4 linked regions of the Homo sapiens genome follow. The protein of the gene in region 1 interacts with the protein of each later gene in a pairwise test. Each region holds a gene or a part of one and is shown in the gene's direction. Other genes may lie near its edges.

Evidence for each region. The genes of interacting proteins can lie anywhere in the genome.
Region 2: the proteins of WFS1 (region 1) and GNE interact in binary tests that used the Homo sapiens proteins (3 or more experiments, as listed by UniProt).
Region 3: the proteins of WFS1 (region 1) and PPTC7 interact in binary tests that used the Homo sapiens proteins (3 or more experiments, as listed by UniProt).
Region 4: the proteins of WFS1 (region 1) and GPR89B interact in binary tests that used the Homo sapiens proteins (3 or more experiments, as listed by UniProt).

The regions. Positions count from the first base shown.
Region 1 is NC_000004.12:6,295,786-6,300,849, forward strand, and holds part of WFS1 (wolframin), read left to right. Parts: intron 1-4,871; coding exon 4,872-5,064. UniProt on the Homo sapiens protein: Participates in the regulation of cellular Ca(2+) homeostasis, at least partly, by modulating the filling state of the endoplasmic reticulum Ca(2+) store.
Region 2 is NC_000009.12:36,220,173-36,224,818, reverse strand, and holds part of GNE (bifunctional UDP-N-acetylglucosamine 2-epimerase/N-acetylmannosamine kinase), read left to right. Parts: intron 1-1,316; coding exon 1,317-1,446; intron 1,447-1,820; coding exon 1,821-2,042; intron 2,043-4,646. UniProt on the Homo sapiens protein: Bifunctional enzyme that possesses both UDP-N-acetylglucosamine 2-epimerase and N-acetylmannosamine kinase activities, and serves as the initiator of the biosynthetic pathway leading to the production of N-acetylneuraminic acid (NeuAc), a critical precursor in the synthesis of sialic acids.
Region 3 is NC_000012.12:110,576,543-110,581,188, reverse strand, and holds part of PPTC7 (protein phosphatase PTC7 homolog), read left to right. Parts: intron 1-4,646. UniProt on the Homo sapiens protein: Protein phosphatase that plays an essential role in mitochondrial metabolism and biogenesis. Positively regulates biosynthesis of the ubiquinone, coenzyme Q. Dephosphorylates the ubiquinone biosynthesis protein COQ7 which is likely to lead to its activation.
Region 4 is NC_000001.11:147,965,550-147,970,195, forward strand, and holds part of GPR89B (Golgi pH regulator B), read left to right. Parts: intron 1-1,004; coding exon 1,005-1,114; intron 1,115-2,782; coding exon of another isoform or gene 2,783-2,838; exon of another isoform or gene 2,839-3,325; coding exon 3,326-3,414; intron 3,415-4,317; coding exon 4,318-4,410; intron 4,411-4,646. UniProt on the Homo sapiens protein: Voltage-gated channel that enables the transfer of anions such as iodide, chloride, bromide and fluoride which may function in counter-ion conductance and participates in Golgi acidification.

The DNA.
Region 1 (5,064 bases):
CAGCAGTGCGGGCCCTACTCCTGGCCTGACAGCTTGTTTTCTTGGCCATGTGGCCCTATGGCCTCTCACAGAGTTGCTCACAGTTCAGCTCGCATGGTTGAATTAGATGTGTGCCTGTCTCACTCTGCAGAGAACACCAGGATTTCCAGAAGCTTGGCCTCCTGACCCAGGATCCCCAAGCTGAGGCCAGCACAGGGGGCCCCAGCAGATGATTGTCACAGAGGCTGCGGGCAGTATCATGCAGGCACCCTGGGGTTCTGTCTTCTGAACTGACTGAGAACCTGGAGGAACTGCCATCATTGTATTCAGATGGGCGCGTGAGTCAGGGCCAGGACCAGGAGATGGTTGGGCCACCAACTGTCAGGCAGGCAGCAGGCTGAAAGGTCACCGTCCTCGAGCCAGGGAGAAGGTCAGAGTAGGCCCGCCCTCCGGTGGGGGGGAAGAGCAGGAACCCAGGTGCTGCAGGAGCAGCTTCAGCCCAAAGAGCAGCAGGCACAGCAGCCCTGCTGCAGGGACTCGGAGCCAGACAGGTCTGAGTGTGAGCCCCCCGAGTGCCCAGAGCTGCGAGTCCTTTAGGGTGGCAGGTGGAAGGCTCTGCTCCTCCCACTTGGGACAGGCTGTATGTCCAGGGTATGACACCGACCGGTCTGCAGAGGTTCTGAGACATGGGCCAGGATGGCCAAGAACTTGAACCAAGGGAGCACATGGTTTTTACTGATGGTCTGCTCAGAGCTGGCCCTAGGCAAGCATATTCACAGATTGGGTGCCATCATCTCCTTACTAATGGGAGATGAGGAAGCTGGGGTGCTGGCATGGTTTTGGCAAAGACACTCCCGAAATGAGAGTGAGGGTCACAGGTGAACGGGTTAACTTGGAGAAGACCCTTGGGCCAGGCGGCCATGGCCCAGGTGTCCCAGTTTATGCCATCTGGTGTAAGTACTATTATAATAATGCCTCCTTGCATATGCGTCCTGTTCGGAAAATTATGTCACCTAGTTATGGATGGTGAGTCTAGTGTTGTGTAGCATCTGAAAATCCTATTTATTTATGTTACTTAATGACAGGGTCTCGTTCTGTTGCACAGGCTGGAGTGCAGTGGCACGGTCACAGCTCACTGCAGCCTCAACGTGCCAAACTCAAGTGATCCTCCCACCTCAGCCTCCCAAATAGCTGGACTACAGGCATGTGCCACCACACCCAGCTGATTTTTTTGAAAACATTTTGTAGCGATGGGGGTCTCACTATTGTTATCTACGCTGGTCTCAAACTCCTGGGTCAAGCGAGCCTCCCACTTTGGCCTCCCACACTGCTGGGATTCAGGCGTGAGACACTGTATCCAGCCTGAAAGTCCTTTTTAGAAGGGAGAGATTTAAGCTGTTTTGACAAGAAGTAAACAAGACTCTGTTTCCCTTTAGTTTTGGATGCTGTCAGAGCACTTCGATTCCTTTGCAGTTTGTCTTCTTAGAAGTCTCTTGTGAGGGAGGCAATGAATCGTCACAAGCGTCTCCCAGGGCTGAGAGCTGTCCCACCTTTTAGTAGCCTTTTGTAGAACAAGGAGAGGTCTTCACTCAAAGTGAAAATGACAGACACCTCTTTGTGAGCCACCCTTACTCCCACAAAGAATGTTCCAGACTCCACACAGTTCTCTTCTGGAGCCTGGAGGTGCAAGCTGTCATCGTAGATAGAATCCTCTGAAAACAAACTTAATATCTTAAAATCGTAACATTTTTAACATTACATAATTGGAAGATCCGACACGGGAACATTTTTGCCCACAGGTTTGAGCAGAATCTCGTCTCGGCTCCCTTCCCCAGCCTGCCTTCTTCACGGGTCCGCTGGGCCATCGGTGTGGTGACGCTGCTTCCTGGTTTCTCGTGGCAGCAGAAGGGCCGATCACCACAGGCCCAGACAGAGAGCTCTGCAGTGTTCTATTCATAGAGGCAGACTCCTCATAGTTTTTAAGTTTCGTTCTTTTTCCATCTCAGGAGTTGAATTTGTTTGGACCTTCTTTGCAGAAAAGGAGACTGAACTTTTTAATCCCATGTCAGAGGAAGGTCTTGGGTGTACATTGCAGGGAGCAGAAATTGGGGCTTTAAAAAGGGGATCGTTCCCTGGTCATCGAGTTCAGGTGGGGGACCAGCCCCTCCACACTGTCCAAGCAGAGGCTAGACGCCATCCAACGTAATGTTCTAGAATATTCCTTGTCTTTTAAAGGCCCTCTCAACCAGGTGGTTGTGTGTGTTCTAGGCAAAAGAATGTGCATGGCTTTGAGTAAGACAGGATTTCAGATTTATTTTTACCAAGGCCACCCCCTTGCTACCGTGGCGGTCGTGCGTGAAACTGGTGGTGAGCAGTGGCGGGCCAGGCCACCTTTAGTTGTCCTGCTGTTCGCAAGGCCCCCATACGGGGATTAACTGAGCAGCCTGCCGGCTGACGCACATGTTGACTCGTGTAGCTGTTGATTTTAGCCAGCTGGCCTGGCGTCATACTACAGGGGCTTGCCCCAAACAAACCCTGGAGTAGGTTGGTTTTCATAAATGCCCTCTGGCTCTCTGGCAAGCGTTGGAAATGCCCTCAAACCCTGTAGTGCCTGGTCTTCCCTGGCCATCTCCTGGCAGTGTGAGCGCCTCTCTGCTCATGTAGAAGGTTGTTGACCCCAGAGAGAGCTAGGGGAGCTGTTAGCTGCTTTAATCGTTTATTTGCTTGTTATAAAACAGAGATTAAGTGGACTGTCACAAATATACATGAAGCAGCAGAGCTGTTCCCCCACGTGTAGACGTGCATGCACACACTCCTAAACACTTCCGTTTCTTCCATGAGCCTGTCCTTCTCATCTGTGGAAGGCTCAGTCTGTGTAGACATGCATGCACACACTCATAACACTTCCGTTTCCTCCATGAGCCTGCCCCTCTCCTCTCATCTGTGGAAGACTCAGTCTTCTGGTTGTTTCCAGGTGTCCTGGTCCTCCAGAGCTGATAGCCAGGCTGTTGGCAGGTGAGGGCCACATTCTGGTGTTGTCACCTAGTTGCCATTCACCTGGGATCCCTCCTTGGCCTTCTGGTGGGCCTGGTGGAGAGAACCTGCCCCAGGGGATTTGTGGGGTCTGGTGCTTCCCCGAGGCCCGGAGCTGATGGGGGGCTCCAGCCTGGATGTGTCATGTAGCCCCTCAGTGGGCCCTGGACATGCAGCCAGGCTTCCCTACCCCCATGTGGGGCCGCCCCCTAGGCGTCCACTTCCTGGTGTTGGTCCAGGCCCCTGGCACTTCTGAAGATGCACAGAACCTGCTTTGTATGCCACGCCATGCTGTGTGAGCACTGGCACCATGGCCACTTTGTCCCCCATCCCCTCCAGTCCCTCTGCCTGGCTGCCCTGTGTTCTGGCAGGGCTCAGGGCCTCTGAGTTCTGCACAGACCAGGAAGGCATGAGGGCTGGCCCTGGGTGGCAGCGCTGCTTCACCCCATCCTGAGGCTGCTCCCAGCATGCCTCCCTCAGCCCTCTGCTCCTCTTGGCTGTGGTGAAGGCCAAGAGCTCTTTCTGACCTTAGCGCTGCATGCAGAGCAGGGGAGCAGGACCCACAGGTCGGGGGAAGGCAGCCTTTGGCCTTGACTATGGGGAGGTAGGGGTGCGCTGGTGTGTATGTGTAGGTGCACACGTGTAGGGGTGGGTGTGCATGTGTGAGGGTGCACGTGTGGGGGTGGGTGTGCACGTGTGTGTAGGGGTGGGTTGCGTGTGTGTGAATGTGTATAGGGGTGGGTTGTGTGAATGTGTGTGTAGGGGTGGGTTGCGTGTGTGTGAATGTGTGTGTAGGGGTGGGTTTGAATGCAGGTAGGTTGCGTGTGTGTGTAGGGGTGGGTTGCGTGTGTGTGAATGTGTGTGTAGGGGTGGGTTGTTTGCGGGTAGGTTGCGTGTGTGTGAATGTGTGTGTAGGGGTGGGTTGTGTGAATGCGGGTAGGTTGCGTGTGTGTGTGTAGGGGTGGGTTGCGTGTGTGTGAATGTGTGTGTAGGGGTGGGTTGTTTGAATGCGGGTAGGTTGCGTGTGTGTGAATGTGTATAGGGGTGGGTTGTGTGAATGCGTGTGTGTAGGGGTGGGCTGCATGTGTGTGTGTAGGGGTGGGTTGTGTGTGTGTGTATGGGGTGGGTTTGTGTGAATGCGTGTGTGTAGGGGTGGGTTGCGTGTGTGTGTGTGCACGTGTGTGTACGGGCAGAAGGTGGCCTGGCAGCTGCTTCTCAGGGTCTCCGGCCATAGGGAGGGCAGCTCACCCGGCAGCCCCGTGCAGCTGAACGGTATTTTTGCTGGGAGAGTGGTGCTGGGCCCTCTGCCTGTGTCTGCACTGAACTCCCTTTCCCTAATGCTTGCTCTGCCACCCCTCCGGGGACTGCCTGCGGCTTCTCCTCCTCGTAAGGATCGCCATTTCCCTTCATGGAGGCTCAGGGAGGTGACATCCTTGCTGTAGTGCAGAGCTGGGTCACAAAACCAGCTCCCAGACAGGCATCTCAGGGCTCCGTCATCTCTTCATGTGGGTGACCCTGAGGGGAGGGAAGTGGGGAGCCCGTGGGTCCCTCCAGTGCTGGAGGTCTTGCAGGGAGAGAAGCACACATGCATCTAGTCACGCTGGTAGAAGGTGGGGAGCCAGGCACGGGGCAGAGGGGGGCTCCAGGCCCAGAAGAGGGAGGGCTCACAGGGACCGCGAGCATGGGGAGGGCCACCTGGAGAAGGGGGGAGGGAGGACCACTAGGATGGGGCTGGTGATGGGAAAACGCAAGGGTGCGGGTTCCTTTTGCCCAGAGGCAGGGTGGTCAGAGGGAGGCGTGAGATGGGAGCAGTGGGGGTCCTGTCCCAGCCTCGTTCCCACGTACCATCTTTCCCCCAGGTGGTCAAGTACCCCCTGCACGCCATCATGGAGATCAAGGAGTACCTGATTGACATGGCCTCCAGGGCAGGCATGCACTGGCTGTCCACCATCATCCCCACGCACCACATCAACGCGCTCATCTTCTTCTTCATCGTCAGCAACCTCACCATCGACTTCTTCGCCTTCTTCATCCCGCTGGTCATCTTCTACC
Region 2 (4,646 bases), on another chromosome or scaffold:
GGCTTACTGCAACCTCTGCTTCCTGGGTTCAAGCGATTCTCCAGCCTCAGCCTCTCAAGTAGCTGAGACTACAGGCGTGTGCCACCACGCCCAGCTAATTTTTGTATTTTTTATAGAGATGGGATTTCCTCTTATTGCGCAGGCTGGTCTTGAACTCCTGAGGTCAAAGTGATCTACCTGCCTCGGCCTCTCAAAGTGCTGGGATTACAGGCGTGAGCCACCACGGCCGGCCATATAATAATTTAAACAATGTGGTATTTCTGCCAGCCAGGATGGAAATTTACCCTAAGGAAATAGAGTATCCAGACCATCACTGAATTCAGTTACAGGAGATGATTAAAGCTCAGCTACTTAGTTGCCTCAGTGTTTTTTTGTTTTTGTTTTTGAGAAAGGGTCTCACTCTGTTGCCCAGGCTGGAGTGCAGTGGCGTGATCTCAGCTCACCGCAGCCTGAACTTCCCAGGCTCAAGAAATCCTCCCAGCTTAGCCTCCCAAGTAGTTGGGACTACAGGCATGTGCCAACATGCCTGGCTAATTTTTTGTAGAGAGGAGGTCTCACTGTACCTCCCAGGCTGGTTTTAAACTCCTGGGCCCAAGCGATTCTCCCGCCTTGGCCTCCCAAAGTGCCGGGATTACAGGCGTGAGCCACTATGCCCGGTCACCTCAGTAAGCAAGAAAGTTTTGTCAACCTGAAAGAGTAAACTATGGTCTTTTAATGAACTAGGCTCAAATTAGCGAACATTGAACTTAAGCTTAAGAAAGGGGCCCGGCCGGGGGCAGTGGCTCACGCCTGTAATCCCAGCACTTTGGGAGGCCGAGGCAGGCGGATTGCTTGAGGTCAGGAGTTTGAGACCAGCCTGGGCAGCATGGTGAAACCCCATCTCTACTAAAAATACAAAAATTAGCCGGGCGTGGTGGCAGGCACCTGTAATCCCAGCTACCTGGGAAGCTGAGGAAGGAGAATCGCCTGAACCTGGGAGGTGGAGGTTGCAGTGAGCTGAGATCGCGCCATAGCGCTCCAGCCTGGGCAACAGAGCGAGAGGCCATCTCAAAAAAAAAAAAAAGAGAGGGGCCCATCTTGCTGCCTGTGGAGTTGTCATTGCTTCAACAGCCCCATATTAGGACAGATTACAGGAACTACTTGAGCTTACCCCAGGGCTGGCCCAGACCAGGCAGTGGGTCCTTCCCCAAGCAGTCATCTAAGACTGCGGGGCCATCCTATAGCAGTGTCTAATTTGTCATGAAAAAGATCACAACACTCACAATATGCTGCTTAGCTAAGACCAGTAAGACGGAACTTGTTGTTTTCTCTTTTAGGGTGAAATAGTTAAGAAGTATACTCAGTTCAATCCTAAAACCTATGAAGAGAGGATTAATTTAATCCTACAGATGTGTGTGGAAGCTGCAGCAGAAGCTGTAAAACTGAACTGCAGAATTTTGGGAGTAGGTAAGATTGTAAATTATAAATCCAAGAAATGCTCATTTTAATGTACAAAATTTACTAACTTGTGATGCATGCCTGAGCATCAAGTCAGTGTCTGCCCTGTGCATAGATGGCTCTAGGTGCTGTCTGTGGGCCCCAAGCATGGGGACTTCCTGGGACACCAACAAGCATTAGGAGAGAAGCACTGACAGTTCTAGAAATCTTTAAGGTGCTATGGCTTTAATTCACAACTGTCTAATATTTCCTTGCAGTCCTTGGTAACGTTTGTCTTAGGAGATCTGGGGTGAATGAATCTGTGTTCTTAAGACAAGAAAGTCAGCATACTTTCCTGAGATTGCTCATCAGCATTATTTCCTTGTGTTTGTGGTGGAGCGCAGGCATTTCCACAGGTGGCCGTGTAAATCCTCGGGAAGGAATTGTGCTGCATTCAACCAAACTGATCCAAGAGTGGAACTCTGTGGACCTTAGGACCCCCCTTTCTGACACTTTGCATCTCCCTGTGTGGGTAGACAATGATGGCAACTGTGCTGCCCTGGCGGAAAGGAAATTTGGCCAAGGAAAGGGACTGGAAAACTTTGTTACACTTATCACAGGCACAGGTAAGAGGGGTAGGGGGAGGTTGGTTCAGGAGCTAGAATGTATATTGGAGCATGTCTTCAACATGGTCAGGTGGTTACAACTCTGCCTTAGCCTTCACTTCCTGCATGACTAGAGCCTGAAGGTGAGCCACATGTGGCCTTTTCTGAGCATGTGCCCAGCCTTAGACATGCCTGTGGCCTTCTAAATTCCAGGAACTTGTCAGAGCTATTCAAAGCTCTTATTTCCCAGAGCTTCTCATTTCCCAGCTTTTCCTCCCAGTCTTTTTGGTTAGTGTGTTGGATGCCCCAGCTGTTATCCTTTGCCCTAGACAGCACAGACTAATACATTTTACCTTGAAATGTTTTTTTTTTTTTTTTTGAGACGGAGTCTCGCTCTGTCGCCCAGGCTGGAGTGCAGTGGCGGGATCTCGGCTCACTGCAAGCTCCGCCTCCTGGGTTCACGCCATTCTCCTGCCTCAGCCTCCCAAGTAGCTGGGACTACAGGCGCCCGCCACTACGCCCGGCTAATTTTTTGTATTTTTTAGTAGAGACGGGGTTTCACCGTTTTAGCCGGGATGGTCTCGATCTCCTGACCTCGTGATCCGCCCGCCTCGGCCTCCCAAAGTGCTGGGATTACAGGCGTGAGCCACCGCGCCCGGCCGAAATGTTTTTGATAAACATCCTTCATGTAACCCCCTCAGCACTAGGATAGTTCCTAGTTAGTTAAGATGAAAGCAGGCCCTTTGAGGTGGTCCTCCAGGGAGGTGACAGGCAGGTCAAAACAAACAACCACAATTTTTTGAAAATAAGTTCGTCCTGCCCCGTCAGGTACTGGTATCCAGTACTGTTTCTGTACACCAGTACTGGGAGTGTGGACTGTTGTTCAAGGTCACCACCAAGCTGGAGAGTGGGTGATGGGACCAGGGTAGGTTACAACACCAGAAAGTTCTCTTATCAAGATTCAGCTGGTTTTGTTTTGTTTTTAGACAGGGTCTCACCATGTTGCCCAGGCTGGTCTTAAACTGCTGGGCTCGAGGGATCCTCCTGCCTTGGTCTCCCAAAGTGCTGGGATTACAGGCATGACCCACTGCACCTGGCCCTGGTTTTTGTTTTTCTTTTTTAAATTAAGCATTCCTCTGTTTGTTGCAAACTTTGGTTAGTTTCCAGAGTTCCAAAAAGGTTGATTCTGACATTTTTACCAGTTTTTTCCTCACTTTAGTGGCAGAATGGACCTTTGGAGTTCCCTGCTCTGTCATTTTTTTATGACATCCCAATTTGTTACTTTTGTTTTTTTACTCTATTTTATTTTTGTTGTATATATTTTAAGTGTATAACTTGATTTTTAAATGAGGAAACAGACTTAGCTAATAAGCGGTTAAGCCAGCATCTGATACAGATATGTCTAACTTCAAAACTTGTATGTGCTTAAACTCTACATTACACCACTATCCCTTTAAGCTCATGTACTTATTTATTTATTTATTTAAAGAGTGAGTCTCACTCTGTCACCCAGGCTGGAGTGCAGTCGCACAATCTCAGCTCACTGCCTCCCAGATTCAAGTGATTCCCCTGCCTCAGCCTCCCAAATGGCTGAGATTACAGGAATGTGCCACCACACCCGGCTAATTTCTGTATTTTTAGTAGAGACAAGGTTTCACCACGTTGGTCAGGCTGGTCTTGAACTTCTGGCTTCAGGTGATCTGCCCGCCTCAGCCTCCCAAAGTGCTGGGATTACAGGGGTGAGCCACCACACCCAGCCTAAGCTCATGTACTTTAGCTCATGCTCATCCTCTTTTAGTTCCAGACACAGTTTTAGCAAACTTGGATACCATTTCCTGGCTCAGAGCAGTGACTAAGCTGTAAATCAGAGGGCTAGGGGTTGAGGAATAAGTGCCCAAGAAGTGACAGATGGCAAGACAACCCTTAAAAGCAGAGCCTTCTCAGGCACAATACCCTTTACTCCTTTGTAACTGCTAAACGCCATAACAAAAGACAGTCACTGATATTTATAATTATTGAATCACAGATTTTTAGACATGGCAGCATCAAAAAAGGCAAAATCATTATTTCATATTTTCTGCTTCAGGAAGCAGGTAGTGTGTGATACATTTTAAAAGACTTATCTTGGGTATTCCTCAGAGCAGAGCCTGAGACAAGGATTTAGGTACAGGTATGGTTTTTTGGAGGTGACCACAAGAAGCAGGAGGGTGAGTGGGAAGAATGAAACAGAGCAGGAAGAAAGCCATTAAGGATATATTAACATTATTGAAGTTGACTTGAGGGCAAAGGGGGCTGAACTCCACTAGCACCTCCTAAGAAGCCTGCAGAACAGCATCCAGAATTGTCCTGTGGATCTGCCGGCTCCTGCCTTGCCTCGGTTGCAGGTTGCCCCTGGGTGCTGTGCCTGCGTGGCTGAGTAGGCTCTTGCTTCAGTGTTAGAGAAAGCCTTGGTGCAGAAAGATGGACAGTGTGTGCTGGGCCAGGGGGTCTGCTACCCACAAGGTGGGCATGCATTTTTGCTGCACTGTCCCCACAGCTGTGTTTGAAATCACAGTGACCCAAGCAGATGGGTCACAGGGCATCAGAGGATCTGCTAAAAACATTTCCATCCAAAATGCTGCCAGA
Region 3 (4,646 bases), on another chromosome or scaffold:
CTCGTGTTCGCCTCGGCCGCCCAAGGTGCTGGGATTACAAGTGTGAGCCTGGCCCCTGTGTTGCTTCTTAAAGTTGTGTTCATAACATAGGATAGGGGATAATGAGCCTCTAAGGTTCACCTCATAAATCTGTATGCTGGGCTGCGCGTGGTGGCTCACTCCTATAATCCCAGCACTTTGGGAGGCTGAGGCGGGTGGATCATGAGGTCAAGAGTTCAAGACCAGACTGACCAATATGGTGAAACCCAGTCTTTACTAAAAATACAAAAATTAGCCGGGCGTGATGGCGCATGCCTATAGTCCCAGCTACTCAACAGGCTGAGGCAGGAGAATCTCTTGAACCAGGGAGGTGGAGGCTTCAGTGAGCCAAGATCGTGCCACTGCACTCCAGACTGGGCGACAGTGCGAGACTCCGTCTCAAAAAAAAAATAAAATAAAAAATCTGTATGCGACTTTTGTGAAAGATCCGTGACTTGATTGATGATTTGGGGAGTATTTAAATGTATCAAATTCTATATGGAAGCTTGATTTTAAAATTTTGGAAGGCTAGACCGGGCGTGGTGGCTCACGCCTGTAATCCCAGCACTTTGGGAGGCGGAGGTGGGCGGATCACCTGAGGTTAGGAGTTCGAGACCAGCCTGGCCAACATGGCAAAACCCCGTCTCTACTAAAAAATACAAAAATTAGGCAGGTGTGGTGGCACACGCCTGTAGTCCCAGCTACTAGCGAGGCTGAGGCAGGAGAATTGCTTGAACCTGGGAGATGGAGGTTGCGGTGAGCCGAGATCACACCACTGCACTCCAGCCTGGGTAACAGAGCAAGACTCCGTCTCAAAAAAAATACAATAAAATTTTGGAAGGCTACCTTCTTAATGGAGTGGGATATTTACAAGAATTGGGGGGATTTTGGTCAAACCCATTCTAAAAAAGTATAAACATAATTTCATGCCCTGACATCCTGGTGGAAATCCAGTGAACTTTGATGCTCAGCTTTGCCACTTAGTAGCTCTGTGATTTGTGGTCTTGGGCAGAGTCTCTCTTGAGTCTCCTTTGGTTTATCTGGACTAGGGGATAAAGGGAATGGACGATCTGACCCTTAGTGACTACAGCTTCTGACCATCATATCACATTTTCTTTTGTTCTTTTCTTTTTTTTTTTTGGTGGGTGGGGGGTGCGGGTATGGAGTTTCGCTCTTGTTGCCCAGGCTGGAGTGCAATGGCGCCATCTCGGCTCACTGCAACCTCCGCCTCCCGGGTTTAAGTGATTCCCCTGCCTCAGCCACCTGAGTAGCTGGGATTACAGGCGCGCGCCATCACGCCCGGCTAATTTTTGTATTTTTAGTACAAACGGGGTTTCATCATGTTGGCCAGGCTGTACTCGAACTCCTAACCCCAGGTGATCCACCAGCCTCGGCCTCCCAAACTGCTGGGATTACAGGCATGAACCACCGCGCCCAGCCCATATTTTACTTTTGCTTTGAATAGATGGCACCCTTTGTTCTGCACCTCAAATGACAGGTGTCACGGGCACCTTCAGTAGATTCCTGTTTTGTATGTAGCACTAAACCAGTGGTTTTTAGCTTTCCTTGATTCACAACCCCTGAGGATCAGGACCCTGTGCACAGAGATAAAATTTTGCATGGGCTCTTAGGAACTTTGCTGACTCCATGACTCCTCTGATACCACCTGGAGGTCCATGCATAGGAATCAGATCAAGAACCCCAGCTCTGTACCCTTGAAGGGAATGCCAGCAGACACAGTCAGATACTGGTAGCTGATGTGACCAAAAGGTGGTTGTTAGCCATGTTTGACAAAGATCAAGCATGCACATATGCAAATGGTGGGGGATAGGGGCAGTGAAGGACAGGTTCTCCAGGACTGTCCTGTTGTGGAGGAGCTCTTCCGGACGGCAGTCTTGGAAGCCACCTGAAATAACTTCATGAGTTGGCCTCATTTGATCCTTGGCTGTCCTGAACCAGTTCATATGATGGTGACTTCTATTTAGTTGATACCGTAAAAGGTGATGACTTTTTTTTTTTTTTGAGATAGAGTCTTGCTCTGCCACCCAGGCTGGAGTGCAGTGGCACGATTTTGGCTCGCTGCAACCTCTGCCTCCCAGCTTCAAGCGATTCTTGTGCCTCAGCCTTCCGAGTAGCTGGGACTACAGGCATGTGCCACCTCACCCGGCTAATTGTTTGTATTTTTTTAGTAGAGATGAGGTTTCGCCACGTTGCCTAGGCTGGTGTCGAACTCCTGACCTCATGTCATCCACCTGCCTCAGCCTCCCAAAGTGCTAGGATTACAGGTGTGAGCCACAGTGTCTGGCTAAGGTGATGACTTTGAATGACTCTTTAATACTGCTGTCAACTCTAGAGGTTGGAGTTACAACCTGAATTACATTAAAAGGCTATGTTGAGTAATAACGTTACGTTGAACTTAAGTGCTTTTGAACCTTTTGGTTCTGTAGATAATTAATTTTCTTTGAATTGACACCATATTTATTACTGAGTATCCGTGTAACAGATTATTCACTGTGGTCATCTAGGACTCCTTGACTGGAATGAAAGCTGTTTCTTTCTTTTTATATGAGAAAGAGAAATCTCTTTTGTTTCTTTAATTTAAAATTGATCTGTCCTATTAGTCATGCAGTGACTAATAGTGCTTGGTGCTTCACAACATTTTGTATAGTCCCCACTGTATTTCGTTTCGGAAAAACTGACTATGTTGGGTGTGGTGAGACATAGGAACCACTCCTATCATTCTCTAGAAAATTGTCAAAGGTGCTTTCTCTTTACTAGGTCCAACAGGAGTAAACCAGTACTAGCGGGAGCCGTGTACACTTTTCTTGTTCCTTCTTCCCTGTGGCTAATTCTGAGTTCTCTTATTACTCTACGTGGCATGGCTTCCTAGGTGCACAAAAATATGAGAACTGCATGTTGTAATACCTGGGCTTCCCACAGCCTTATGCTACTTAACAATAGAATCAAAGACTGTTGAGAATTGTAACACTTAGAAACCTTGGAGTCTAGTTTTTTTCACCTCACTGATGAGAAAACAGGCCTCCAGAGAGTCAGATGACTTCCCCAAGGTTACTCTACTAGTTATTGGTGGAACTGAGGCTGACACCTATCTCAGTCTCTCATCTGAGACTCCCTTTCCCAGTCCTGTCCCCGTTAGACCACTGGTCAAGTTTTCTTGATGATATATGTGAATTAAAAACCAGTCAGTCTCCTGATACTTTTGTGCTTCGAATGCTTTTCCTGGGTGTGTGTGTGTGTGTGTTTATAACTTCTTTATTCACTCTGACTCATAACTGATGTGCAACAAAAACTCCTCTGCATGCTAAACCACAGTTTAGAGAAACCACTTATTTTAAAAATGGCAGCCTGGTCTGTGCCATATAAATTTTGACCTCTGAATATTGAGTTGTAAAGTATTTATTATGAAACTGTGGGATGTTTATTTAAGCTTAAACTTGAAACCTAAAAGTGAAATTAAAATAATTTCATATCCCAGCCTTTGGATCTGATTTTGATCGTGGTCAGGATTTTGAAGTGTTTTTGTGAGTAATGTCAGTCTTAAAAGTAGTTGTCTTGAGGTGTAAAGATCATATGAACAAAATTAAGATCTAAATTATATTTAGGAAGTGAATGGATGAGGTAGAATTTGGTGTTTTCAAACAGTCATGATCATTTTAATGTACTTATAGAACCTCTATTCTGAAAGTGAGTTGTCCTTTTAAAAAAGTAGTCACCTTCAGAGTGTGTGTGTGCACCCACTGACTTCAGTCTTTCAAGAAGTCCTTGTTGGAATTTTCCTCAGCTAGATTTCAAGCCATGTCAGGACACCACTCTCATTATATTACCATAATTTTTTTTTCTTTTTTTTTTTAATTTTACTTTTTTTAAATTCCAGGATACATGTGCAGGACATGCCATAATTTTCTTAAAGTCAGATTCCAGCATCATCTACCTGTTGATAGCAAATATGACCCTGAGTGAATTTTTTTTTTTTTTTTTTTTTTGAGACAGAGTCTCGCCCTTGTGCCCAGGCTGGAGAGCAGTGGCGCGATCTTGGCTCACTGCAACCTCTGCCTCCTGGGTTCAAACAGTTCTTCTGCCTCAGCCTCCCAAGTAGCTGGGATTACAGGCACCCACCATTACACCTGGCCAATTTTTATATTTTTAGTAGAGACGGGGTTTCACCATGTTGGCCAGGCTAGTCTCGAACTCCTGACCTCAGGTGATCCACCTGCCTTGGCCTCCCAAAGTGCTGGGATTACAGGCGTGAACCACGTGCCCAGCCCCTTGAGTGAATTTTTAAAAACTGATATGTATAATTCACATTCCATAGCATGTATCCTTTTAAAGTGTACAGTTCAGTAGTTTTTACATTCACAAAGTTGTACAGCCACTGCCACTATCTAGTTCCAGAATGTTTTTCATCACCCCCCAAGAAACCCCCTATCCATTAGCAGTCACTCCCCATCTCCCTGGCAACAGAAAGCAGATTCTGTCTGTGGATTTGTGTTTGAGACATTTCATACAAATGGATCGTGTAATATGTGGCCTTTTCCTTAGCATGTTTTCCCTTAGCATGTTTTCAGAGTTCATCCATGTTGGAGCATGTGTCAGTACTTCCTCCCTTT
Region 4 (4,646 bases), on another chromosome or scaffold:
TTTGTGGTGAGCTGGGACATGCCAGCAGCTACCACTGTACTAGTCGGTCCTCCACAGACTGAGAGGACCAGGAGTGGTAGGTTTCCTGTTGACTTATTCACCTGTAGGACAGATTACAGAAGGTGAGGGTATTGGACTTAGAGACTGATATTTTAGAAGGGGACAGGTTTATGCAATTTTGCTATTTTTTTTTCCTTTTGTCTGCCTTTGAAAAAGAAGGAAGAAAACATGTATTGCGTTCCAAACTCTGTATTTGGTCCTTTAGTTAGGTATGTTAGCTGTTTTTTTTTGTTTGTTTGTTTTTGTTTTGTTTTTGAGATGGAGTCTCACTCTGTCACCTGGGCTGGCGTGCAGTGGCGTGATCTCAGCTCACTGCAACCTCTGCCTCCTAGGTTCAAGCGATTCTCCTGCCTCAGCCTCCCAAGTAGCTGGGATTACAGACATGGGTCACCACGCCCAGCTAATTTTTGTATTTTTAGTAGAGATGGGGTTTCACCATGTTGCCCATGCTGGTCTTGAACTCCCAACCTCAGGTGATCCACCTGCCTCGGCCTCCCAAAGTGCTGGGATTACAGGAGTGAGCCACCATACCCAGCCAGGTATGTTAGCTGTTTTATTTTGTCTTTAAATGGTAACTGTAGTAATTAAACTATGTATAGCGCCTTGTAGTTGACAACATGAATTCATATGTATTATTTCATTTATCTTCACAACCATCCAGATATGAGGAGATGAAAACTCTAAGACCTCCCAGCTTCCAAATAGCAGAGCCAGTCCTCAAATTTATTGCCTAGCCCAAATTCTGTGCTTCTTCACCCAGGCCACATTGCTTCCACATAGTTTCCCTTCAGTTGTAAGTAGTAGAAAAGTAGGACTCCAGAATCAGTATCCTTACATAAACAGCTCAGTACATGAGAGGCAGTTGTGAGACTGGAAAATGGATGGGACTAGACTGTGAGGGTCCATGCTTGCTTGCTGAGGCTTTATATTTTCTTTCATTTCAGGATGGCAATGGCACGGAGAACAATGTTCCAGAAGGGGGAAGTGCATAACAAACCATCAGGTTTCTGGGGAATGATAAAAAGTGTTACCACTTCAGCATCAGGAAGTGAAAGTATCCTTTGTCCCTCTGCTTGATTCTTTTTCTCAACTCTGGACCAAGAGCAAAAGAAAAAAAGTAGTGTTGGGATAGTCCCTTCTAAGGTACCTGACTACATCAGAGTCCAAACTCCTAAGAGCTAGGCTTAGGAAATACCATGTGTACAGTCATCTTTCCAGCACCTGCACAATATCATAAAATCATTGTCTTTGAGCTGAAGTGGTCCTAAAAAGTCAGCCTTTCCATTTTACAGATGAGAAAATAGACCCAGAGAGGTTAAGTCACACGGTGGTTTGTGGCAAAGCTAGAAACATAACTGTGGTCTCCTCTTCATAGTTCTTTCCACTACACTATTACATTTCTCAACTCTGAAAAACCACCATAAAGCATAATGGCTACCTAAAATAAATGGCCCATTTCTAAAGTAATTAGTATTCCTAAACAAATTTTAAGTAGCTCTGCTTCTCCAGTGACATTTTGGTTTAAAGAATCAAGGGGAGGCTGGGCGCAGTGGCTCATCCCTGTAATCCCAGCACTTTGCAAGGCCGAGGTGGGCAGATCACTTGAACCCAGGAGTTCAAGACAAGCCTCGGCAACATGACAAAACCTCATCTCTACAAAAAATACAAAAATTAGCCAGGCCCAGTGGCATGTGCCTGTAATCCCAACTACTCAGGAGGCTGAGGTGGGAGGATTGTTTGAACTTGGGAGGCTGAGGTAGGAGTGAGCCCAGATCACGCCACTGCACTCCTGCCTAGGCAACAGAGCTAGACCCTGTCTCAAAATAAAAAAGAAAGGATAAAGGAGATTTGATTAATAGATTAATAAATTGTTCTTTCCTGATTGGTTATGATGTTGAACTACTTCCCAAATTATGTAACCAAATTTCTGTGTGGCTCTGGTGCTATTAGGTCAAAACTTTGGGGAACTAAGCATGAGATAGCATACTCCTGTTTCCTTCTCTGTCCCAGGGAAATACAAATTCCCTTTTGCCTCAATTAGAGAAGGATGTCTATTCTTGCTACAAATTATGATTTATGTCCTGGTGTCAAATGAAGATAAGAATAAGATCAAAGAAAGGCAAGATGATTGTGGAAGAGAAAGAAAAAGGATTAATTTAGATTTATTTAACCAAGAAACATTTATTTTGTATCTCCTATTTCCAGGCTGAGTGCTAAGAAATAAAATGATGAGTAGAGTATAGCCTTTCTCCTCAAGGAGCTTACCCTCTAATCATGGGAGAGACAGACATGTAACTAGTTAAACCATATTGTTTGGTGGCTTGAACCATGCCAGTAGTAGCCACTATTAAGGAAGGAACTGAAGGGCACTTACTGATTTGGGTAATAGTGGGAAAAATCAGAGAGGAGGGAGGATTTAGATTGAAGTATGTGCTTCTATTTTAGAAGGGGCTATATTTACTATGTTTATTACTTAAAAGTTCATAAAAGCCAATAATATGGGTTTGAGCTGTGTTAGTGATGAGTTAACAAACATATCAGGACTATTTAACCTCCCTGAGCCCCTGTTCTCTAAATGGGAGAATAATAACTCTACCTGATTGAGTTCTTGGAAAATAACATAGTGTAACGGAAAGAGCAGGCTTTGGAGGAAAAGAGGATTTGACTTTGCATCTCTATCAATTAATTGTGTGACTTTGAGCAAGTTATTTAACTCTCTGAGCTTCACTTTCCTTATGTGCAAAATGGATAACACCATGGCATAAGACAATCCCATGAAGATAAGATATAAAAGAAGATAATGTTTGAAAAGAAATAAGGTAATGTCTGTAAATCCTAGCCTATATTAGAACACAGTAAAGTATTAGTTCCCTTTTCTAACATTATATTCAGATAATGTAGGAGAAAGCTATGCTTTATTATAGTTATTATTCTGTAACTATTTACAATCTTGAACATTACATTTGACTTAATCTAACTAGATAAATCAAAAAACAAATGAAACTATCTGTTTGAGCTGCTTGACTTAAGAGAAACTGAGTGGTAATTGTTTGGTGGCGATGCTCTTGATGGAGAAGCTTTTACACACCTGCGTCAGAGGTTGGGAAAGTTGCTCTGAAGTAGTGTTGCTGGCTATGAAACAGGAAATTGAGAATATAGGCAACTCCGGGAATCCACTGTAGGAAAAACTAAAAGTATATGCTTTCTCATTGCCATTTCTTGAAATTCCTATGTGATTAAAACCTTGATGCCCATTCTGTGCCAGATCTTACTCTTATTCAACAGGAAGTGGATGCTTTGGAAGAATTAAGCAGGCAGCTTTTTCTGGAAACAGCTGATCTATATGCTACCAAGGTACAGAGCAAGGAAACTGAAGTGTGGTTTTTACCAATATTATTAAAGAGAGAACAAGACTAAATGGCTTTTTAGATTTCTCTGTGGCCAAGCAAGAGATACCTCACAGCTTCTATATCAGCCATGAAGCATTAGGGATAAGGGATCTTCACTCTTCATGAAATTGCTCCTGTCACTAGCAAAATCCTTAATGGAACACTCTCAAAAGTAGCAATTGGTGGGATAGTCAGAAGAGGCTTTTCAACATTTAGGAAGGTGGCACGTACCACCTCCTACTAACCTGGGATAAAGATGGTAGCTACTTTTTATTCCTTTATAAGTTAGTAATATTATAAGAGCAGTAGACACCTATCTGCCATGGATGGCCTAGCCCTATTTTAAAGGATCCAGATCAATAAGTGTCGAAACTGTAAGAAGTAACTTTCCTATGTACACCTAAAATAAAATATAATTTAAATGTGCAAAATCTGTTAGTGAAGATTGCAAACTTTTAATTCTTTTTGAGGATAACTTTACAGGAGTAACCTTATAGGACAGAGGTTAACATAGGCTTTGGAAACAGATAAACCTGAGCCTACTCACCAGCTGTGTGACTTTGAGCAAGTTATCGAACCTCTCAAAGCCTCAATTTTCTCATCTGTAAAATTAAGATAATAGAACGTATCTCATAAGAGTTGTTATGAAGATTAAGTGGATAATGCATGTAAGATGTTTATCCCAGTCTCTAGCTAAAAGCAAGCATTCAGTAAATGCTGGCCACAACTACTGTTATTAGTTTAATATTATTGCAATGTATGGTTTTTTGACTGAACCTGAACAGTGATTCATAGAGGGAAGAATACTTGTGTTGAATATAAATTTATATTTTGCTGAAAACTATGTTTTGTGTTTGTTTTCCCCCAGGAGAGAATAGAATACTCCAAAACCTTCAAGGGGAAATATTTTAATTTTCTTGGTTACTTTTTCTCTATTTACTGTGTTTGGAAAATTTTCATGGTAAGTATGTTATTTTTAATTATCAGAGTTTAGATGTTTTTTCCTGGTAGTGGCAGGGAGATAAGAATGGATTTGACTGATATATTGAACTAAATTCCAAATGTGATTGCATCAACAGAGAGCATGATCTTCCACATCTCTGGGCTTCATTTGTTATCCTCTCTCCTTTTTAGATTACATAGATAAGGAAGGTTGCATTTTTCTTCTGTCAGAAATTGTTAATAAGGCCTTAGTTT